2 separate regions of the Homo sapiens genome follow, and region 2 is linked to region 1. The links come from fine-mapping of genetic effects on plasma protein levels. A gene starts in region 1. The other region holds a variant in brackets. All regions are shown on one strand. Distances are between the middles of the regions.

Region 1 (12,453 bases):
TTCACTCCAAGTTGTAAGTGAGAACGTGGTATTTGGTTTTCTGTTCCTGCCTTGATTTGCTTAGGATAATGGCCTTCAGCTGCATCCATGTTGCTAACGAGGACACAATTTTGTTATTTATTTTATGGCTGCATGGTATTCCACGGTGTATACATTTTCGTATCCAATACACTGTTGATGGGCACCTAAGTTGATTCCATGTTTTTGCTATTGTGAATAGTGCTGTGATGAACATATGAGTGAATGTGTATTTTGGTAGAACTATTTATTTTCCTTTGCATGTATACCTAGTAACAGGATTGCTGGGTTGAATGGTAGCTCTGTTTTAAGTTCTTTGAGAAATCTCCAAACTGCTTTACACAGTGGCTGAAATGATTTACATTCCCAGCAACAGTGTATAAGCGTTTACTTTTAGGAAACTTTTAAGATGGCTTCTATATGCAAGTAATAATATTTGAAAATGTGTTCTATATTTGTATTATTGTGCATTCACTCAGATACAGAAAAAGGAATCTAAGTCAATAAGTGTTTCCTGTTTGGAGAAAACTCAATATATGGGCAATACAAGTGTTATATATAAAGCTCTTGCCTGGTTATGTGACCTTAAGTGTTGTAGTATGAGCTGGCACAAAACTCTCTAAGTGAGAAACAGAAAGGATATGGCATAAGAGAGAGTAACTAATCCCCATAAGATAAGGCAAATTTTTCATGTCAATATAAACAGACGATTTGGAACCCTTGCTGTGGGCTTACTGTACTGTGGCATAGTGCTTTGAATGCCTAAGAAGGTTTGTCTGTTTATCATATTCTGAAAAACAACATGAAAATAATAAATTGATAGGTCTCATTTAACCCCTGGAAGACAATAAATCCAATGCAATGCTTGTAAAAAAACTGAGTTATGTTTGTGTTAGCACAGTGCATCACATACTAGCAACCTGTGATTTCAGTACATGTCTGCTAATTAATTTATTTTGTAGGAAAATAAAGTTAATTGAAAGCATGAAATATGGTTCCTAAACTATGCATGGAGAGGGCTAATTGGTCCATGGCTTTTTAAAAAAACGGATAAAAATATGCCTTAAAAGGATGTCCTATTATACCTTAGTTCAAAAGAATAAAGTCCCCACCCATGTCTAAATGTATGCTAAACCTTAAGAATATCTTAAAGCAAGAATAGTAAATACCTAACACATGAGAATTATCTTTTGTATAATATCTGTGATAGAAAACATTAGTAGGTCACTTTAACCTTTCCTGCTCAGCTCCGATGCAGGGTCAGGATCCTTTGGACACAGTGTTTCAGTAAGTCACTACCAATCAGTTAGGTTAGTTTATGAAATGAAGAGTTTTTTTTGCCATGTATACACCTCTTACTAAACAACCTATAACAAGAGAATAATCTTACCTAGAAATGTACCACGAAGAAGAATTATTTTGATTTTAAGAAACAGGAAACCATCGAAACTATTTTACATGAAACATTTTTTTGTCTCACCCGGCTACAAGGTCAAGTTGTATTCCAGTTTCAGCTTTTAATAAAAAATAACCTTTCAGTTTATTTGAAGATCTAGGTCTTGGAATATAATTCTCAAGTATCTGTCTCTCTCCTCTTTTCTCTATGGTGACTTTATTCTCAGGAAGGCTCTTTCTAAGTGGTGATAAGAAGAAGGGAGTTTCTCCTGCCTTATGTCATACCTCTGAGCAACCCTCAGTTTTTTCCTAGTAGCTCATAAATCCAAGGTAGGTTTCTCATTGGCTTCTGTTGGGTCTGATGCCCTTCATAGCTTTAGTCCCCATAGACTTAGGAGTAGAAAATATTGGCTGGTCGTGCCTGGGTCACATGGACCAGGGGTAACTAGAAAGCATTGGAATTAGCCTCAATTCGGCCACATAAACATAGGAGATATTATTCCCTAGGTCCAACCAGGCTAAATGAACGGAGATAAATGCTTGGCAAGCAAAAAACAACAGGTATTCGTGGTAGCTTCCATTCTTATTTTTCTTAACTATTCTTCTGAAATTGTTCTGACGACAGAGATTACAGTTGCATTAAGGATAAAGTTTAAGCAGTTATAATAAAAGTCTCCAAAGGAGATTGGCTCAAATTGAAAGGGGACATTCAATTTTTTATGGTATTAAGTAGGTTCTGATCCTCAGAGTCATGTAGGAATTCAGGCCAGAGTGGGGTTTCTTTGTCATCCTCAACATGAGCCTTTTACTACTGTGGGTTAGTCAAAAGGAAAAGGAGAAGTGAATCTAGATGATCTTTAAGTAGATGAGCTGAGAGTTGCCAACAGCATTTTTCCTCATGTCTCTTTGGTGAGAACCTAGTCCTAGAACCAAACTAAGTCAAAAGAGTGACTAGAAAATTTAGTCTTTAGGTTAGCGGCCCTGTGTCCAGAAGGAGAAAAAGAACTAGGCCGGGCGCCATTGGCTCTCGCCTGTAACCCCAGCACTCTGGGAGGCCGAAGCGGGCGGATCACGAGGTCAGGAGACCATGCTGGCTCACATGGTGAAAATCAGTCTCTACCAAAAATACAAGAAGAAATGAGCCGGGCGGGTTGGCGGGCGCCTGTGGTCCCAGCTACTCCCGGGGCCGAGGCGGGAGAATGGCGGGAACCCGGGGGGCGGAGCTTGCGGGGAGCCGAGGTCGCGCCACCGCACTCCAGCCTGGGCGACAGGGCCAGACTCCGTCACATACAACAACAACAAAAACAACAAAAAACAGATTAGTGGGCAGAGGAAGTGGAGAACAACCTGTGGCTGCCACAAGCTCTTGTTGGTCTTTCCTTTTTCTCTAACATGTTTCTGTTACATTGAGTGGAAAACATACTTTCAAAAACAACTGGAAAAAAAAAGAAAAGGAGAAACTTCATTTTGGCTATGTGTCTCTGTAAAAAGATCAGCCTTTATGCTCCTGGTATTACTCGCTATCCCACTATTCGACATTTGTCTTGTTTGCTGCAACAGAATAATAATAAATAAAATTATCTTCAAAGATGGCAGTGACTTTTCATCCTGTAAAATGATACAAGATTAAAAACTTGGAGATTTTTTTCAATATATTCTCGGCCATTAACCAGTTGTACAACTCTGATAAAATTTCTGAACCTTACTCTTTTCAGATATAAAAAGAAGCTATGGAAGATTATGTTTTCTGAGGTCCCTTCCAGACTGAAAAGATTTCGTACCATGTTGGAAATAGAGAGGTTTAGAAGAAATTCTCATCCTCCAGACATATGAGGACTTTCTCCAACAAATAGGAATTCATCCTATAACTCAGTTCACAGGCCTTTGAGATAAGACTTGGGGGCATAGGACTTTGGAGCAAACCATCAATAGGAGAGAAAACTAGTCATTGTAGGCATTGCTGATTGGAGGGTGGGAAATCCTTCTGACCTGCACAAGTAATCAATGGATGCCTTAAAGCATGAGATTTGAAAACACTTAACATTATCTTGGCTACATAATTATAATGTTATTAATGGCCACAAAGTTTCTTAGCCTTTTTAAAAAATCCAGTGAAAGTATTTGATTTCATGACCTCCCAGGGCTGAATTATACATATTAATGATCCATGGCATGCAATACAAGATTTTACCTTTTTAGTTGTTCCAGAATTATTGCCCTTTGATTTTTAATACATATCCTTTTGTTCTTGTATTAAAGGACAAGTTAAAGGAGTAGTGACTCTGTCAGGATAACTCTGCAGAATTAATATGGTCTTTTTAGCTTTATTAATATCAAAGCTGAAGTGGCTGCTTTGTACTTTCAAGGTTGCTTTTGAAGGATCTATTCCTCAGTGGAACATCCTGCTTCCTGCTTTTTATTTTTTATTTTTATTTTTTATTACAGCAGTTGGCCGGAAAGCCCCTGTTGATCTGTGACTATTTGGAACTGCTAGACTGAAATGCCATTTTCAAAACTCCAGCTCTTCTGCTAAACAATTTTTCTAGGAATGATGCCACATCACTAGCTACTTGTATTTGCCAAAAGGCAATACTACTTCAATGGCCCTAGCTCTGGGAATGATACCAAATGATGGTTCAGGAGGGAGGGAGGGAGGCAGTAAATCAGCAGGAAAAGCTGAAAAATGCCCCAGCTTTTAATAGCTTTTATCTTTTTCCAGATGACTGGCCTCTCTCTCACCTTCTGCTTCTATTCATGATAGGGCCCTTTTCTCCCCTATTTTTGTGGCTTGATATTAGTATTTTCATTCGAAACGGCCGTCCTCAATTATCAGAGAGAAAATTCACACCTTTCAAAGCTACGGCAATCACATTTCCATGTGACTCATAAGTATATCTTCTTTCTCTAGCACCTAGGTGCAACTGTGGGATGCCTGATAGATTAGGATTGTATGTTGAATGGGAAATGGGTCTGAACCAAGTGTCAGACAGTAGAATGGGAGCCAGGGGAGGGTTCCAAAGCAGCAGCAGAAGGTATCTCTAGCAAGCATCCGCTCTGGCTGGGGACTGTCTTCTGGTTCCAGCCTTACTGGAAGCTCAGGCTGTAGAGTTGTGAATTCCTGGGGCCAGGCAAGCCTAGATGTGTTGCCTGCTTTTGATAATGTATCAAAAATATGAACTCATCCTTGGAAGCGACAGCTATGAGGTGTTTCTTGGATGTAGAAATTTAGGTCATCTGTCTTCCTTTTGCATTGCCTTAAAAAGTACGATTTCCTTTCTTGGTTTATCATTTGCTGGCCTTCTTTCTTTCCATCCTTCCTCCCTTCCTTCCTTCCTTCCTCCCTTTTTTCCTTCCCTAGACTTTCCCTATCTCCCTCTTTTCTTTCGTAAAATTTGGTTGCCTGGGATAACGTGTATTGCATACAAGCTGACTTCCTTACTGTCCCTAGTAAGCTATGTGTGGCTATTATTTCTTCATTTATATGCAATGCCAGAAGCTTAGAAGAATGTTATCTCCCTTTCAGTTAAAAACTCATAGTTAAGAACTGGCCATCTTCTTGTTTTGGGTATTGTGGCTTGGTACTGTCTAATATATTTGGAGGGTATTTGATTTTTTAAAAAGCTACTGGCCATGCCTATTGAGTTTCCTACTGAGCCCAGCACCCAGACCAGTGATTGATTAAATAGTAGCTGCTCAATAAATATTTGTTTTGTAAATAATGATTCTATTGTCAAGAAACAAATCACCAAGAAAGAAGGAGCTATATATTTAAGAGTACTCTGTTCATCTGGCCAAAATGGAGTTCCGAGTCCCTTGCTCAGCTGATGTTTGTTCACCCAGAAGATGGTAAACTCCTGAGACCAACTTCGCTTTGTTGTTCTCTTGTGGTTCCTTGACCTTGGAAATGTTTTTCTACAGGCAGAGTATTTCCCCCTGTTGGAATTTTATTTAATATTCTATCTTTGTTTCTACTTTAGAAAACATGCCACGTGAATAATGATGCCTCAGGCAAAAGAAATCACTCCAGCAGTACAATTTAAACTTAGGACAAATCCTGCCCTCACTTGCATTCACAATTTGCCAAGGCAGTTGGTAAGAACTGTGCCCACACACAAATTGACAGAATCGAGGCCCCAAGGTTAGCGATGATTAAAATTTAAAAGTCCATTCATTCATTTTCAAAATATTTTATTCGATTGCTTCTGAGGCAGAATCATGAGTTGCCTTCGCTTTTGCTGCTCCCGGTGGTGGCATCCAACTCTGAGGATAGCTCATCCAACTCTGAGGGTAGCTCTGAGGGGAGCTAAATATCCTCATTGTTCAATGAGCTAGATGAAAACAAAACGAGGCTGTAAGGTCAATCTCACAGCCTTAGTGGAGTAAAAATTAGAAGTCAATAATTCTCTTACCAACAAAGAGGACTTGCATTCAACAGGATTTTCAAAAGTGGTATCCTGTAAAAATTTTGGAAAATACCACCATAATGGAAAAAAAATAAAGTGGCATATAAATCAAATGTAGTGCTAAAAATTATAATTTTTCCATATGAATTTTGGAATCCTAAAATATTTTTATGTGTTTGTGGATTCATAAGGCATCAGAACTGGCTTTTTGCACTGAATATGAGTACAGAAGGCTTTCCTCTCCAATAGTGAATTAATAAAGGATAAGTAGGAAAAACGTTACGAAACGATGTGGTAACATTATAGACTCTGTATTAGGGCAAAAATTGTGAGATAGTAGAAGATCTGTAAATTTAAGCATGCACAATTTGACAGCGGATGGTCGTAGCATATTTTGTAAATTCAATAGCAAGCCCCACCACGCCCTTAAATGAAGGAAAGCAAGAAGACAATTTTTAATACGTACATGGCACCACACCCCTCTAAGACGCAGCAATGGGAGAAAAGCAGATTGGCGACCTGTGTGTGCAACATGAACCGAGTGAAACCATCGGGGAGGGGGTGGGGGGCGTTTCTTTTAAATGTCGCTTTTGCAGATAAACGAGCAGGGATCCTACCTCTTTTGACCGGAGATGTTGAAAAGCACGACCAAAGTTTTTGGCTTGGTCTCTTGCTTTCCACAACGAGATAAAGTCTGAAGCCTGTAACTCTCCCTGTCCCGCGGGAGCGTGCAAAGGGAGGGAAGATAAGCGGCGTGGGTGAGGGGTGGCGGCGCAGAACCCAGGAAGGGAGCAGAGGCGAGAGCCAGCCTCCGGCAGGAGGGCGTAGACCCCGGTGCCAGCCAGAACGGCTCCAGCCTTCCCGCGGCCAGAGAGCCAGCGGCGGGAGGGGACGGGCGGGACCTCCGCGGACAGCCCCGGGTGCGGACCAGCGGGCAGCGGCCGGCGAGACCCTCCCTGGATCCGCCCAGAGCTTACCGGACCCTGCGCGCCCCCGTCCCGGCTCCCGGCCGGCTCGGGGGAGAAGGCGCCCGAGGGGAGGCGCCGGACAGATCGCGTTTCGGAGGCGGCGCAGGTGTGTCAGGGGTGGGGGTCCGCTGGCATCTCTCGTGCCGGCGCTGGGGGGGTCTCCCGTGGAGGAAGGGCTGAAGGTGCTCCGGGAGGGGTCCACTCGTTATGGAAAGGAAGCGGGGCGCGGTCAGGGTCCCTCGTCCGCAGTGGGGGTGGTCCGGGCCCCTCAGCCTGCACCCGGGAGGAGACGCCCCCTTTTCACGCCCCGCCCCCGGTGGCCGAGGCCGGATTCGGACAGCTCGGGGTCAGTCGACGGAGCACACCGGGCGCCCGAATCCGCCGGGTCCCACTCACGCCCGCCGGCCGCCGGTAGGTTGGCCCTCCCGCTTCCAGCCTCCGCCACCCCATCCCTCGCTGCTCTCTGAGGAGGATTCCAGACCCCCCCGTAGATCTCCGCCCTCTCTCGGGTGGGGCTCCGAGGTCTAGCTGGTCTGGGGGTCAGTCCCGGCCTCTGTCTCCCACCGCGCCCCTCGCTCCCCTGGACACCGCCTGGTGTGTGGGGCTCAGACCCCCCCAGTCCACTGCCCCTGTGTGGCTCCTCCTCTCAGGAGAGGATTCTAGATCCCAGCCCGGGGGGGGTTCCGAAAATGCCGCCAGCCTGGAGCGGGGAATCCATGGACCGTGGGGTTGTGGGGTTGGGGAGCACGAAAACCCAGAGAGGGGCTAGAGCTCCACCTCCCCAGACCGCCGAGGGGCGAGAGGGCGCGCCGGGGGCCGTGGTTGCCATGGCTCCTGGTAGCGGAGCCCGGGGGGCTGGAGATGCCGGTCGCGGATGGTCCCTTCTTCCTCTTTGTGCCTCTCTCTTTCTCTCGCTTTTTTTTTTTTTTTGGAGTGTGAGTGTGCGTGGGGAGGCAGCACGGAGAAAGTGATTAATTTGGGGAGCAGGGATTGGAGCCGGGAGGCTGGGGAAAGCCAGCCCCTCCGTTCCCACTCTCCGGGCTCGCTGCGAGCCACAGTGTCTCAGCCAGGGGCAGGGCCGGGGAACTCCTGCGAAAAACCACGGGCCGGAGGAGCAGCAGCCGCGCGGGCCCAGGTACCCCCGCCCCAGACGGCCAGCAGGGTGGAGCGCAGGGTGGGCGTTTGGGCTGCTGGGCGGGAAGGCGGGCGGGGAAGGGGTGGGAGGCCGGCGGCGGAGGGCAGGTGTGCGTCGGCAGGGCTGGGTGGCCCGGCAGAGAGGGCGCCCCAGGTTCAGCCCCTCCTCGAAGGGCGCCGGCGTCCAGTCCCGCTCGTGGGAGCCGCGGAGCAGCCCCAGGGCCGGCGAGCGGCTGCCCTGCCAGGCGCGTGCGCGAGGGCGCGCTCCCGCGGGAACGCGCCGTGCGCGGGGAGATTTGCGCGTGCGCGTGGCGATGGTAACTGGTGGGCCCCCCGGGCTCGCTCTAGGCGGAGGCTCCCGGGACGCCCACGTGGCTTCGAATTCCAGCTCCACCATCACTGTGATGCGTCACTCTGGACTAGGCATTTAACTACGTGCCTCAGTTTCCCTTTCTCAATAATACGGAGATTATCGATACCCTCTATACTGGGTTGTTGCAAGACTGGAATGAGATGATACAAGTAATTTAACACCATAGATTTTTAAATTTAACACCATATGCATATTTGATGCATAATAAGCACTCAAAAGTTATTGTCGTTGATGCCATTACTGTTAGTTAATCCTCAGTTTAATTACATATGGTGCATTTTCATTTCTCTGCATTTTCATTGAAGTAAAAATTCTGCGTTTTCTAATTTTGGAGAATAATCTTAATTAAAATATGAATATTTGTACTGCACAGTCCAACTCCTACGAAGCTCTGCCTTGCAGCAGATTGGAAGAGAGAAACTGATCAACTGCCGATGAAGTTGGCTTTTCAGTATATTGATGGAGAGAGAAGCTTAGGAAGCTCTTTGGGGAAACTTTTGGTGACAAGAAAATAAAAAGTTTATCCCAGAGTTTTTCTTTTGTAAATCTTTGTGTTTTCTCTTTCACCTGCAGATGTTGCAGTTGGGTTTGTCTTAATTTCAGTCTCTTTGTGAGGGACCACCATTTGGCTTTCATAATTTAACGTGGTTACAGAGCCTATGTATACCCTGGCTTTCCATTTTATGGCCTTAAGTGCTGCAGTGGATTTACCTTTAGTAATGGCAGAACGTAGTGTATAATCATTCCTTGCAAGCTCCTGAATATTGTGAGCAAATCAATGGAGACAAATAGTTATTACTGGATGGGTGTGAGTACTGGCTATGGCAACTCATTAAAATCTCTTTCAGGGTATGTTTGTACCCACTTCACTGCAGCACAAGACTATGATGATGAATATATGTTTCCCAGATTGTTATCTGTTGCATGTAGACTTACGGATCCTTTTCTTCAAAGAAACGGCTATAGATATTTATTGATTCCTCATGGTTATATAGGTCCTCCAACCTATCTGCTGATAAGTACACTGTACACTTCGTGGGCCTAGCTGTAGGTCTAAGAGGAGTTGATTTTGCACATACTATACTTATTGCATTTAAGTTAATTCATCTCATTACATGAATTGGTTTTAAATAAATTTTTAAAATCATTTGATTATTAAAATATAGGCATTTCTTGGTGAACTTGAGGCAAGTAAAGCCTGACAGATGTCACCATCACAAAGATCCTTAGTGACCTTTACAAAATAGAGCTCACCCAGAAAAACATTTGCTAGATAGAAACCTGATTTTATAGTTGCTTCTGAAATCTTTGAAGATAGGAGGTTATTTGCCCCAAAATTGCTTTGTTGAAATAATTTAGCCTGATTCGCTTTTATAGAAAAATAAGGGTAACGATCAAGACTGATTTAAGATTCTTGTATTTTTAACCGATAAAAGAAAATTAAGTAATAGTTGGGGAACTACTGGTGTCAGATTTGAAGGAATGATTGTCAGGAAATACTGAGAGTATTACTTCAGGTAGCAGTGTTTGGCTTTGCAAGACAACCCTCTCATCCTCACTGTGAATATGTCATCTTTAAAAGGTACCTTGAGGAATTAGTGTGACAGCTTCTCTGAAATTCATGTGATCATTTACATATTGTTTCCCAGGAGCTTTGGCATTAAATGTTTCATTTATTGGAAATTATTTTGCCCTTTAATTTATGACAGCCAACAGTGCAATAGAGTCTAATGTATTTTAGAAACAATAAAATTAGCTTTTCACCATTTTCTATTTTCCCTAAAAATCTAGCAGCAATGCACTTGGAATGCTTAAGTTAGTCCAGAGACAAATGGTAAGAGTAGGAAAACATGACAGATTGGGAGGTGTTGAGTTCTGAATTTGGGGACCTAATTGAAATGCAAAGGTATAATCAAGAGAATGAACTTGTCTCTGTACTGAGGTTGTTTTCAGTGATGTACTATATTATCTGATTCAGTCAACGTTCCTTGTTATTTTTTCAAACCAAGATTGAGAATACTATATTTTCAATTATGAACATTTTGATTACAGTTTCATTCTGACTAATTCAGTCGGAAGAGAATGCAATTATTATGGTCATTTACATACAATATGCTAAGTTAACACAGCTAATGAGTGAAAGCATAATATTCTTTCTGTTTGTTCCTGGAAAAATATTGTGCTAAGCATTCTTTCAAAGAAAGATTACATTATTCGCTATCATTTTATGTCTATCTACAAGTAGAATTGGCATTGAGCCTTTTCTCTGCTATTAAAGTGAAATCTCTTATATTTTGGTGATCACATGCCTTTCCTCTCACCCCTTGGGGGAGACTGGAAACAATTCTCAATTTAATTAGATATGCTGCTTTCTTTTTTCTGTACATCTTTATCTGAGGAAAGATTGTATTTTCTAATTTGGGAGGCTGCTTAACACCTTAAACATTACTAATTACTGCAGTTTATTTTATGTGTGTCGCAATAGTGTAGTTAGTTAATTATAGCTTTCTCATTAGCACCACGTAGAGAATAATGAATTAACACATCCCTTTGATCAAAAAGGATTTAAGTTTATCTTCTGAGAATAAAAGTGTTATTGTGTTACTGAAAGTCACTATAATTTTCCCAAGAAACAAATTGGTTGGAATTCTGTATCACTGGGTTAGGAAGCTCAATGAATGAGTTGGATTGATCACAAAGTAGAGTAGAGCTGTGGTTGCTTGGCAACCTGACATTATTCTGCCATTTCTGGTATATTTATCCAGTAAACTAGAAAATTCTGTTTCGTTAACGAATGTTTTAAGTCAGTGCACAAATAGACCATAACTAATTGAGATTTTATGTGTTGTGGGTAAAAAATGATCCTGCTTACCTTCTCATTGTGTTTAGATCATAAAAATACAAAGGGACATATTCCGTTTTCAATTTTAAGGCATTTTCCTGAAATGTTGACTTCACTTTCACATAATTTATTCCTAGTGAAGAATACAACTTGTGTATCTCTTTGGAAGTTAAATTATTAGAAGTGTGTGTGAGTGTATATGTGTATGTGTGTGTGCGTGTGTGTGATGCTTATATACATAATTTCAATAAGAATCACAACTAGAGTTTGAGGTGAGATGAATTCTCAAAATTCATAGTTTGCTAATTGAACTGACAGTTTGGTACATTTAGGGTGGGTATAAATATCTGAATCAAATGATGCTGGCAGATGATGATAAGAATGATAAATGCATTGAACTTGGTCAATATATAATTATATTTTATGCTTTGACCAGGGTTTCTTCTCCTGGTAGTCTTATAACATTCTCCCTTCTAATGTTTGTTTGCATCTTATTTCCCCTATAGTTGTGGAGGTAGGAGCTCTGTTGCCCATCTTCTGATTCACCTCTTCCTAACTCCAGGGACTACAATTGTGCCATTTTCCTATACAACCTATGAATTTTAGTGTGCATCACAATTTCCTTTTCAGACTGTAAACTCCTTGAGGGTATACATTTCCTTTTATGCATCTCATAAACTCTTAAAGTGTCTGGCACAGCAGGAAGCGAACTGTTGTGGTGGTTACATGCACTGGCTATAAAAGTCAGGCTGCCAGGGTTCAAAATCTAAGTCTGTCAGCTTGCAGGTGTGTGGCATTGGCTTAGTCATGTTGACCTCTCTAAGACTAGTTTCTTCTTTAGAAACGGGGAAATAGCCATACTTAGCTCACATGTCACATGTGTTCTTGTGGACATTGTATGGGGCAATCTATGCAGACAGATTAGTAGCACGGTTTTTTATTGTAGTGATAATTATCCTTCTATATCATGTTCAGTATGTGAATGAACAAAGATAGAGGGACAGAGCGTATGTGTGTGTGTATCCCTGTGTATGTGAATAACTGTGAGCCATGATCAATGGTGGTGTCAAATGGCAAACTGTTGATTCCTACATTAATTATATGCACATATACCAATAATGATTGCTTCACATATTTAAAAGGTTTTCGCAATAGTTGTTCTTAGGCTTGGCTGAAATTAGAATCGTCTGGAGAGTTCTGTAAAGCTACCAACCCAAATCAATTCAATTACAGTCTCTGTGGATGGTGACTAGAAATCTGGATTTTTGAAAACTTCTAGTGCGATTCTAACACGCCCTAATGTACCAATATTGGTTAAGA
Region 2 (12,453 bases), 57 kb before region 1:
ATGTTCTCCTGCCCTTGGACATCAGAGCCCCTGGTTCTTGGGCCTTTGAACTCAGAGACTCACCCCAGAGCTGCCTCTCATCCATCCCCTACTGCTCCTCCCTGGTTCTCAGGCTTTTGGCCTTGGACAGGCAGTTACACCATTAGCTCCCTTAACTCTCAAACCTTTGGACTTTGGCTGAATTACACTATTGGCTTTCCTGGTTTTCCAGCATAGAGACAGCATATCTTAAAATTTCCTGGACTCCATAACCGTTGTGAGCCAATTCTCATAATAAATCTCCTCTTATATTTCTGTTATCCCATTGGTTACGTTTCCCTGAAGAACACTGATTAATATACTGACCTTCACTCTTTACATTTGTATACTAAAATATTGTAACTCAATTTTGAAGCTAACCACCTGGAGTTAGTGTTAGACTCCCCATAGATTAAAAGACACGATCCCCAACGAGACTGCCCTCACTTCAGATGTGAACAGCAAGTTAGAGGGTCCCCAGGCTACCTGTACTTTTGATCAACTGGCTACAAAACTGGGATGTTCCCATGTCCCCTCCCCCAGCTTTAATACTATTTAATACTTTAATGCTAGAATGACTCACAGTATTCAGGAAGGTGTCATAATTACAGTTTTATTTTAAAGGATACAATGTAGGACTAGCTAGAGGGAGAGACACATAGATGAGGTCTTCGAGTGTCAAATATTCAGAACTTCTATGCACTTTTCTCATGGGATCAGAGCACATCACCCACTCAGGACGTCAGTGTGTTCATCAGCCATGAAGTTCCAGTAAGCTTTGGTGTCCAGGGTTTTTACTGGGTTTTCATTACATAGGCAAGTGGATTGAACCAAATCTCTAGCCACTTCTAGCTTCCCAAGCTCAAAGCCTCTCTAATCACATGGTTGCCTTTTTTTGGTAACCAGTCCCTAACCTGAATCATCTGCTTTGCATAAACTCAAGTGTGATCCAAGGCACACATGAATAACAAAGAAACTCCTATCACTTGGGAAATTTCAAGGATTCAGAGTCTCGCCTTCAGGAACCAGGGGCAAAGGCCAGCCATATTCTTCTTATATGATGTATACTTAAATTTACATATATGCATAAATGTATGTGTATCAATTATATATGTATTATATTGTGATATATACACTATATATAATATATAAATGCATGTATATATAAATGTATATGTACAAATAAACATAAAGCCATCTAATGTCCATGTGTTTTTGTATCTCCTTCATGTACCTATACAGCAGTCCCCTCTTTCCTGCAATGGTTATGTGCTAAGACCCCCAGAGGGTGCCTAAAACTGGATATAGTATTAAACACTGTATATACTGGATACAGTATTAAACACTGTATAAACTGGATACAGTATTAAACACTGTATATACTGGATACAGTATTAAACACTGTATATACTGGATACAGTATTAAACACTGTATAAAATGGATATAGTATTAAACACTGTATAAACTGGATATAGTATTAAACACTGTATAAACTGGATATAGTATTAAACACTGTATATACTGGATATAGTATTAAACACTGTATAAAATGGATATAGTATTAAACACTGTATATACTGGATATAGTATTAAACACTGTATAAACTGGATATAGTATTAAACACTGTATAAACTGGATATAGTATTAAACACTGTATATACTGGATATAGTATTAAACACTGTATAAAATGGATATAGTATTAAACACTGTATATACTGGATATAGTATTAAACACTGTATAAACTGGATATAGTATTAAACACTGTATAAACTGGATATAGTATTAAACACTGTATATACTGGATATAGTATTAAACACTGTATAAAATGGATATAGTATTAAACACTGTATAAACTGGATATAGTATTAAACACTGTATAAACTGGATACAGTATTAAACACTGTATATACTGGATACAGTATTAAACACTGTATAAACTGGATACAGTATTAAACACTGTATAAACTGGATATAGTATTAAACACTGTATATACTGGATATAGTATTAAACACTGTATATACTGGATATAGTATTAAACACTGTATATACTGGATATAGTATTAAACACTGTATATACTGGATATAGTATTAAACACTGTATATACTGGATATAGTATTAAACACTGTATAAACTGGATATAGTATTAAACACTGTATATACTGGATATAGTATTAAACACTGTATATACTGGATATAGTATTAAACACTGTATAAAATGGATATAGTATTAAACACTGTATAAACTGGATATAGTATTAAACACTGTATAAACTGGATACAGTATTAAACACTGTATATACTGGATACAGTATTAAACACTGTATAAACTGGATACAGTATTAAACACTGTATAAACTGGATATAGTATTAAACACTGTATATACTGGATATAGTATTAAACACTGTATATACTGGATATAGTATTAAACACTGTATATACTGGATATAGTATTAAACACTGTATATACTGGATATAGTATTAAACACTGTATATACTGGATATAGTATTAAACACTGTATAAACTGGATATAGTATTAAACACTGTATATACTGGATATAGTATTAAACACTGTATATACTGGATATAGTATTAAACACTGTATATACTGGATATAGTATTAAACACTGTATATACTGGATATAGTATTAAACACTGTATATACTATGCACTATTTTTTCTTCTTCTTTATATTTTCTTGGATAGATTTTTTCTTCACATACATCTTAGCAACTGTAGCATACGATTTTTTTTCTTGTCAAGAATTTTTACCTTTTTACTTTAAGGAAGCACTTTAAGGATTCTATTTGGCATATTCAAATTGACAGCATTACAACTCTTGCACTTTGGGGCCATTATTAAGTCAAATAAGAGTTACTTGAACACAAGCACTGTGATAATGAGACAGTCAGTCTGATAACTGACACAGCTACTAACTCTCCAGTGTCAGGTAGAGTATACAGTGGGGATGTGCTGGACAAAGGGAGGATTCAAATCCCAGGCAGAAGGACCTGGATGGTTGGAGATTTCATCATGCTACTCAAAATGGCACACAATTTAAATCTTTTAAATAGTTTATATTTGAAATTTTCTATTTAATATTTTTAGACCATGGCTGACTGCAGGTAACTGAAACTGCAGAAAGTGAAACTATGAATAAGGGGACACTACTGTATATAAAACTTGACCCTAGTAATAAATTATCAGGAAGAATAAAAAAGAAAGCAGTGAAGTTATCAAAGAAGAAACAAGCCTAATCAACAAACACAAATAGTACTACAATTTTTCCATCAGCTGGAACAAATGCTAGGCAGTGTTTCAACAGTCCCACTCCATCCAAATTCAGTTATTTGCTAGAAGGACCCAGAATACCCAAAAGCAGTTTGTTCTCATGGCTAAAGTTTATTATAACAAATTATACGGAGTAACAATGGTAGGGAAAACATATGCATCAGGCAGATTCCATAGATGTTGGGAATAGGTTTAGAGTCCTTCTTCATCTCAGGCCACACAGAACAGGCTTTTTCTCCAACAGCCATGGGAAGATTCCCTGGAATGTCTCTGCCCAGGGAAGCCCAGTGAAGTGTCAGGGCCTGAAATGTTCACGGAGGCTGGTCACATTAGTACACTCTTCTGTGCCACCAGAGAGGGCGACTGAAACTCAGGACTCCAATAATAAAATCAGGTTCATGTCATCAATTTTGATGTTTGTGCAAAGCAATTCTGTCGAGTTAGTATGGCATGGTCTATTGCTTCAGATATATACAGCAAAATCATAAATCATTAACATAAAGAATCTTCCACATACTATCTTCCCAGGGTTTTGCCATGGTTAATTATGGTTCTAGGTTCCAATGGCGACATGCAAGGAGCAAGCTACCAGATTTTCTGTGTTAACTCCTCAGAAAGAATTAACACTATTGCAACCTATGAACTCCTGAAATGCGTAGACAGCATGAAAGCCCTAAAATTCTAAGCAGGTGAGATCGAAAATCTAGCTGGATTTGAACAAGATAGGGACCAATATATGAAGGTAAGTGTCTCACATCATTAATAAGAGAAACTGGAATAAATTAGCCTCTAAAGAAGACATGAAGAAAAATCAACCCATGATCTCCTCTTAGTTGATGAATTACACACAGTTTCAACCAATGCAATAAATTCTTTTGCTCTTGTTATTCTGAAGGATTGTATAGCAAGCTCTCTTGCTACCTCGCTTTAAAAACTCCGGTGGTCTCCATTACACCTTGATTACTGGCAATCCAATGCTGCATAATTTTCCTTCAGCCTCTCCCTCTAACATTTTTTAGTGTCCCTGTTACCCTCACTGACTACATCCTGCCTCACTACCTTCTCTCAGCTTCCCACACATGCCAAGCTTGTTTCCCACCGAGGTGCCCACGGGATAACTCTTCTCTTTGCCCTTCTTTATGGCCTTTTCTTGGTTGGCCTCTCCTTATCTCAAAGATTTCAACTAAAATACCACTTCTGAGAAATCTTCTCTAATAACTCAGTCAAAAGTAGCCCCATTTCTAAAGCTTTCTCTATCATTTTACCCAGTTTTATTTACTTTTGTGCCTGAAAGTCACCTAACACTTCCTCACTTTACATATGTCTATTTATTTATTTATTTATTTATTTATTTTATGACTAAAATGTAAGCTCTCTGTGAGCAGATACTTTGTCTAAGCTGCTTCCCACTTTAATTCCTATTGCCAGCATTTGGCTCAGAATAGGTGTTCTGTAAATATATGTTGAAATAACAAATTAAGAGTCCTGTAAAGTCTGATTTTAAAGTTGATTGTAAGGTCTCTAGCCCAGGGCTACTGAGAGCATTTTAGTCCATGTATCAGACTTATCCCATAATCTGAGTGATTCCAAGTGTCATAATGAGATAATTGAATCGATGTGGCTCAACAAGTGGTCCACAGAACAATTGAATTAGAATTACATGTTGTCTGGATAAAAATGGAATTATACGAATTGTTCTTCCTGAAATTTTTATTTAGTACCTTAAACTGCAGCTCAGAAGTTTGCATTTTAATGTGTTTTTCAGTGATTCTTAAGTTCACTAAAACAGAAGCTCTGACTAAAATCACAGTGATGATTGTCTATAGGGGCAGTGGCACAGTAAGTAAACTGCCTAGGATGCATAACATCTAAATATATGACAGTTTTTGGTTATGGCAATCAAAATAACAAACAGAAGGAGATTCTTCAAAAATAAGTTTATTCAGGAACGAGCATTGCAATAGGAATACGCATGGGTGTTTTCAGGGAGGCAAAAGAAGATAAGGATTTTTAAAGGTAAAATGATGAGGGCCACATAAGTGTTTCTGAAATAGTTATCCCTGGCTACAAGCATGAATAACCAGGATTGCCTCAGTCTAAGGCAGGACAGGCAGTTGCTGGGCAGATGTCCTTGCAGAAGTATTTTTTATGTCGGTTTGCAGTGGCCTTGTGCACAGTCGTGGTTTTGGCAGAATCTTTCATGATAGCTCTTGTTATCAGGCAATCATGTGTGAGAACCCTCCCTTCATGGCCTTCTTAGACACCATTTTGTCAGGATTTGACCCAAGTGACTCCATTTTAATTCTGACAAGTTTCACAGCTCTGAGCGAGAATGACCATGAAGCGGATCTTTTTTTTTTTTTTTTAAAGTATTACTTGATTTTTGAAGGTCATAGGGCGCAGTGTAGTCCTGCCTCTGACTCTTACTAGATGTGAAAAGTTGAATTTTTAAGCATTCTAAATTCCAATTTCATCTTCTGTGTAGCAAGAGTAGAAATATCTAACTTGCAGCATACTATTTTTTAATTTTTTTTAACTTTTAAGTGCAGGGGTACATATACAGCTTTGTTACATAGGTAAATTTGTGCCACAGGGGTTTGTTGTGCAGATTATTTTGTCACCCAGATATTAAGCCAAGTATTTATTGGTTATCTTTCCTGATCCTCTCCCTCCTTGTACCTAGGCCTCAGTGTGTGTTGTTCTCCTCAATGTGCCCATGTGTTCTCATCATTTAGTTCCCATTTATAAGCGTGAACATGCGGTATTTGGTATTCTGTTTCTGTGTTAGTTAGGATAATGGCCTCCAGCTCCATTCATGTTCCTGCAAAGGACATGATCTTGTTCTTTTTTATGGATGCATAGTATTCCATGGTGTGTATGTACCAAATTTTCTTTCTCCAGTCTACTATTCGTGGTCATTTAGGTTGATTCTGTGTCTTTGCTATTGTGAATAGTGCTACAATGAACATACATATGCATGTGTCTTTATGATGGAATAATTTATATTCCTTTGGATATATAGCCAGTATTGGGATTACTGGGTTGAATGGTAGTTCTGCTTTTAGCTCTTTGAGGAATTGCCATATTGTTTTCCACAAAGGTTGAACTAATTTATACTCTTGCCAACAGTGTATAAGAATTCTTTTTTTCTTTGCAACCTCACCAGCATCTGTTATATTTTGACTTTTTAATAATAGCCATTCTGACTGGTGTGAGATGGTATCTCATTGTGGTTTTGATTTGTATTTCTCTAATGATCAGTGATGTTGAGCTTTTTTCATATGCTTGTTGGCCACATGTATGTTGTCTTTTGAAAAGTGTCTGTTCATGTCCTTTGCCCACTTTTTAATGTAATAGTTTGTTTTTTTCTTGTAAATTTGTTAAGCTCCTTATAGATGCTGGATATTAGAACTTTGGCAGATGCATAGTTTACTTGCAGCATATTTTAAAAGATAAATGAGATAATGCAAAAGACTTAGCACAATGCCTAATAAAAAGTAGCTTGTGGAATGGTAATTTTAAAATGACAAGGTTTTGTTAGTATGATTTCAAGTGGGCAGAAACCAAAGACCTTCTAAATAGGCTTACTAAGTAGACAGAAAGCTCAGGGGAAATGATACAAATAAAGACAGAAGCTCTCCCATTGCTTGCAAAACACACGTGAGGGCTTTTATACTGAGGGCAACATAACTATTCAGACTTCTTATCTGGCTGTCTTTCTTATTAGACTTTCTTATGTTACTTTATTCTTATTATTTATGAATACTAACATCATTTGGGTCAAAAACCACACCT[T/C]TGTGGTGTCCATTTCATAGTACTTATCACATTGTACTGCAGAATCTTTCACCCTCACTAAACATCCTAAGGTAGAGAAGTTGTCCATTTGTGTTTATATCTACAGCATGTGTTACAGTGTTTGACACATACTAGATATACACTACAAATTTGTTAAATGAAGAATGAATAATGCTCAAAGAAACATTTGGTCTGGACTGTCTTCTGATCTGACTGGGGACTCCACTAGAAAGCCATGTTCTTGAGAAATTAGTAATGATAGCCTTTCTTTTTCATTTTAGGAGGTTTCATCCTCTCAGGATTAAACTCCTTCCAAATTAAGAATAATGACTTAAACCCATGATAAGAACTTAATGTAAGTCACTTTTCTCTACCCTAGAAGTAAATACTTTTAAATTCAGAAATCCACCAGGCATTTTTCCATGCACTGATGAGTGCCATGATAGTAAATTAAATAGCAGAAATAGCTGCCTTCATGGATCTATCATTTTAGAAACAAAAGAAAGGACATTGTGTTCTTAGAACCAGCTCATCTTTCTTTCTGCCTCATTCCCTACCTCTCTCTCTATCTTTATAGTAGTTGAAAATGCCAAAATGTAGGATTACATTTTGTCCTTTAGACATTCTCAACATTTGAAACTTGTATGTAAGAAACAAGTGAAGAAATGATCATTAAAAGAAGAGAGAAAATATTGAGTAACCTTTGTTTAAATTTCCACAAAGCCTCAGGTTTCATTGCAATATAAAAGCCACTGAAGTAATGCTTGTTTGATTTGCTTAGCAGGAGCACAACACGAAAATTCCTTGAGCAGGGAAGACAGCTGGTTTGCCAAATCTGCACATTTGGCTGTACAACTGGCTCTATTGGTAGCTTCAGGCTAGCAATATTTTTTACTGACAATTTACATGCTGCTCCAGCCCAAGGTATCTGAAATGAAGTCTTTGCATAAACACAGTTAGAAAAGAACTTGGCTCCCAACCCTGGTCAGAACTCTGCTTTAAAAAAGGAATTCACACTGATCCATGGTAATGTGATAAGGTTGAGCCTTTTCAGCAGAGATTTGCTATGCAAGGCCCCTTGTTTTATATGGCATTATGTAAAACATAATGTCAATAATCCATATTGTCTGTCTTAATACCATTATTCACATAACAGTATTGTGCCTACCTCAGCCGCTTTGTAATCCGGGAACCCCACACGCACATTAAAACAGAGATAACTGTGGAGGAACACGGTTGCATACAAGTTGTGTTGTTCTGGCAGGGAGTTACTCCTCTGCTCCTCTCAGAAAAAGCATTTTAATTCCTTGGGATTTTTTTTTAAGATTAAATAACATCATTTTCTGGGATCTCCAAATTTCCAGCTGCTTATAAGGCTGATTTCATCAAACTAATTAAAATTTCTTTGTGGCTAATCACTTTAGGGCTTAGTTAACTTCTGGAGAATACATGAATATAATTGTAATTTTATCTGATTTTACTCTAACATGGAATTAAATAAGCATATTTTAAACCATATATAAGAATGGTATATGCTGTCTTAGGGCTTGCATTCCATTTTGTTGAACAATTGATTATCCATATTATCCTTAGGTCCCAGGGTACAATGTGTAAATACATCACAGCAAGATATAAAGTGAACTAGAAAAATAATTGAATTACATAGAAATTCTCTAGGGTGGTAGCAATCTATTATATCCATTAAAATTCAGAGATTGTTAAAGCAATCCGAATTATCAAAACTATCTTTAAATTGGGAGAATAGCAAATTGTTTTGGGGGAGGTTCTGATACCAAAGATTTTATCATTTATAAAAACTTGGAACAATCACAGACCTAAATAAAAATTAGAAGTACAGTAACAGAACTTTCTCCTGAACCATTTGAGGGTAAATTGCCAACCAAATGCCATGTTACCACCTAGTAGCCTATAAACAAAGACATTCCCTCCATCACCTCAGCACACCCATCAGAGTCAGGAAATTAGAACTGAAAAATTACTGCCATCTAGTCCTCAGATCTCATTCAAGTTTCATCAATTGTCTCAATATTGCCCTTTATAGCTAAAGGATCCAATTCAGAATCACAAGCTGCATTTAGCTGTGATGTGTCTTTAATATCATTGAGTTTGACCTTGACACTTTTGAAGATCACAGCCTGGTTATTTTTAAAACCATCCTTCAATCTGAGTTCATGCAATGGTGCTTCATGGTTAGATTTAGATGATGTGTCTTTAGAAAGAGTATCACTGAAGTGATGCTGTGTTCTTCTCATTGAATCCTGACATACGTTGTGATTTCCATGGGTTTATTTCTATTTGTTCATTTTGGCCACTTGATTTAGTTGGTGCCTTCCAATTTTCCCCAATGTAAAGTTACTTTTTCCCCTTATAATTAATATTTATTTTATTGGGAGATACTTAAAATTGTATAAATAGCTCATTCTTCATAAAACTTTCAATGAATTCTTTTACTTACATTTGCATGGACTCATGTTTCCTGTTTTATCCAATTGTTTAAAATCTATTGCTATGCTCATTTATTTTCATGCTATATGGTCTCAGATTTGGCCAATGAGAATTCCTTCTGTCTGGCTTCTTTACCCTCTTGACCATGTTTTTTTTAGTGCTTTCATATTTTCTGGCATAATGAGATGTTTTAGGATTACTTTGCACTTTCCCTTTCTCAGCCATGGATTTAACCATTTCTTCATGGAGCTCCAGAATGATATTTGGAAGCCAAGATCTGTGTGCTAAATGTGCTTATTGGTATTGGAGTGTTCCCATTTGCAGGCCCTTGAGTGAAAACAGCTATGCAATACACGAATGCATACACAAAATACATTCATGTTTTTATCTACATTTATTCGCATCTCTGTCACATATACATTGAAAAACATGAGTTCACAGCAATACCTGTAATTTCAATCCAACATCCTAGAGTTCCATCTAGTTTTTCCCCTTTCCATATTTGTATATCCATGTCTCTGATAGTGAGAAAACTATATCCCATTATTTTTAATTGATTTGCTTATTTGATCAATCCCTCTGCATCTAATATCCTGCCTTTGCTGTTACCTTCTCTCCAACATGAATGCCCTCCATGCCCTACTCTGACGCCATGATTGGTGTCCCTGTATGTGAACATGGTCATCACCCTAGTTGGCCCTACTATCTCCATCAGACCACCCTTCTGCACTGATGGCCTTCTGAACCCAGCCAGGCTTCAACATTCCCTGCAGAATTTCCTGCTACATAGACATCCTGGGGCACCTTCACTAGAAAAATGTGGCTCCCTCCCATTACTGCCACAGATGTTTACTTTGTTTTATTCTACATAAGGATTAAGATTAAATTGATATACAGGAAAAGAAACAGGAAAGGAGGGACAAGGGAAGGGGAGGGAAAGGGAGAATGAATGAGGAAGGGCTAAGACATCCTTTCAAATCCAATTTATCCCAATATATTATTATATATTGGCAATATACAACAGAATGTCATAATGCACTCACATTTAAACATGATCATGTGTAAAATTTCTATAACCTTGGATGCTCCCATATGTCCCTAAAAAAGATCAAATACGTGTTTTTCTTGAGCTTGTAACATTAATGAGTATTTAACTTACTCACATTGCTTTTATTTTGCCAGCTCAGTGTCAAGAATTCATTTAGATGGCAGACATCAATGTGCACTTTAACACTAAACCATGAAAATATATACTCACTAGAGTAAGTCCAAGCCATTATTCAGAGACATTTTAATTCCCATAGTTCATGTTGATATCTATCTCAAAAATATCAGGAAACAAGTCTTCATTTTTGCAACATTGGTTTGTTGTCATAGGTAAAAAATAATAATTAAGAGCAAACAGATACTGCCATAATTTAAAGTAATATGATTTATTTTCAATGGACACTAGCATGTTATAAAGCAATTTACAACATCAAACAAAGCCATAATGTTTCAGAATGGGTCATTTAGCATATTATATTATGGCACTTTACTTATTATAGCTTTGAAACTATTATGAAATTTTCTCAGCCAGCACTTTTTTCTTTGCAAGAATCCTTGTTTTTTTAATGTTGTTCTTTTTTTTTTTTTTGCATTTCCAGTGAATTGAATCTGTTTCAATATTTAATCACTGTCTGAGTTTAGCAGGTATAAAAGATTTATGGTTTTATCTCATTATTAATATATTTACATAGCGCTTTTTTCTTTATTAGTGCCTAGGCTGAATAAATAATAATAATAATAAAATAGGTAAGAAAAGGAGAGGTGTCATTTTCTGTTTAATTCTCCTAGATTGTTGAATGAGATTTTTGGATGAAACATACATCAATTTTAGAATATAATTAGATTTGAATGTGATTAGTGCCAACTTCATGCTGTCTAAAAAAGAGTTTATTTAATCAATTATAACTGTTTCTTACGAAGTCAAGTTCTTGATTTGTGATTTCATTTTATTGTGTTCGGAGACCCTTGCTAAATATGTCATTAGGAGACAAAAGCTCAAATCCCTCGGCCTTCTTACTACAGTAATGTTTCATTTTAATTTAAATTCAACTCATAAAACATCTCTGTCCTTTTATAAACAAGGTGAAAAGATAAGTTCAATTCAGCCTACTGAAAGCATGTTCCTAGAATTAAAATACTGGCAAAGTATTTTAGTCTTCCTCTCAACACATCTGGCAAGTTTTTTAGTTTAGTTTTGTTTTGTTTTATTTTGTTTTTTTGAGATGGAGTTGCCCAGGCTGGAGTGCAGTGGCACGATCTCAGCTCACTGCAACCTCTGCCTCCTTGGTTCAAGCTGATTCTCCTGCCTCAGCCTCCCTAGGAGCAGGACTACAGGCACATGCCACCACGCCCAGCTATTTTTTGTATTTTTTAGTAGAGACTGGGTTTGGACATGTTCGTCAGGCTGGTATTGAACACCTGACCTCAAGTGACCCTCCCGCCTCAGCCTCCCAAAGTGCTGGGATTGTAGGCATGAGCCACTGTGCCCGGCCATATCTGGTAAGTTTGAAAAAAAAAACCCAGTCACGGAGCCCATTCAGTTACCTCTGGCCCTCTGCTGTCCCCATCACAGCTACTTGGAATACTTGGGTTACTTTTTGATTCATAAGCGATATCTCATCATAGTCCCGAATTAACCAGCTGTTACTGATGGAGGCTTAAAATCACGTTTAGCAAACCTCTACCTTTCTCAACAATCATTGAAACAGCTGTCTCCAAATCTGCATACATATCCCCTATATACTTCGTGGTTATTGTTCCATTTTGAAGGGTTGTCATTTTAAAACTAAAAACTAAAAGACATTTTTTTTCTCTAATTCTTTGCCCCCC

Direction of the effects. Alleles are on the strand shown, and positions count from the first base shown. The strength of an association depends on the size of the effect and on how common the allele is.
As copies of C replace T in region 2, the plasma level of the protein whose gene starts at base 6,590 in region 1 goes up (moderate association).

The links. PIP is the chance, under the fine-mapping model, that this variant and not a neighbour inherited with it causes the effect. Protein levels are from antibody-based Olink assays in UK Biobank. Linkage for the fine-mapping came from a reference panel and not from the study's own genotypes, which makes the PIPs less certain.
Region 2: its variant is fine-mapped to the plasma level of the CHL1 protein (UK Biobank, PIP above 0.99).

The regions. Positions count from the first base shown.
Region 1 is chr3:190,174-202,626 of GRCh38, forward strand. It overlaps CHL1 (cell adhesion molecule L1 like), which reads left to right and starts at 6,590. Exons shown (of 28, transcript NM_006614.4): 1 at 6,590-6,890. It overlaps CHL1-AS2 (CHL1 antisense RNA 2), which reads right to left and starts at 7,168. Exons shown (of 4, transcript NR_144487.1): 1 at 6,794-7,168; 2 at 6,283-6,335; 3 at 5,823-5,867; 4 at 5,585-5,741.
Region 2 is chr3:132,952-145,404 of GRCh38, forward strand. No RefSeq gene overlaps it. Among named protein-coding and RNA genes, the nearest start is that of CHL1, 58 kb to the right of the region's middle. The variant T/C (reference allele first, on the strand shown) is at 7,111.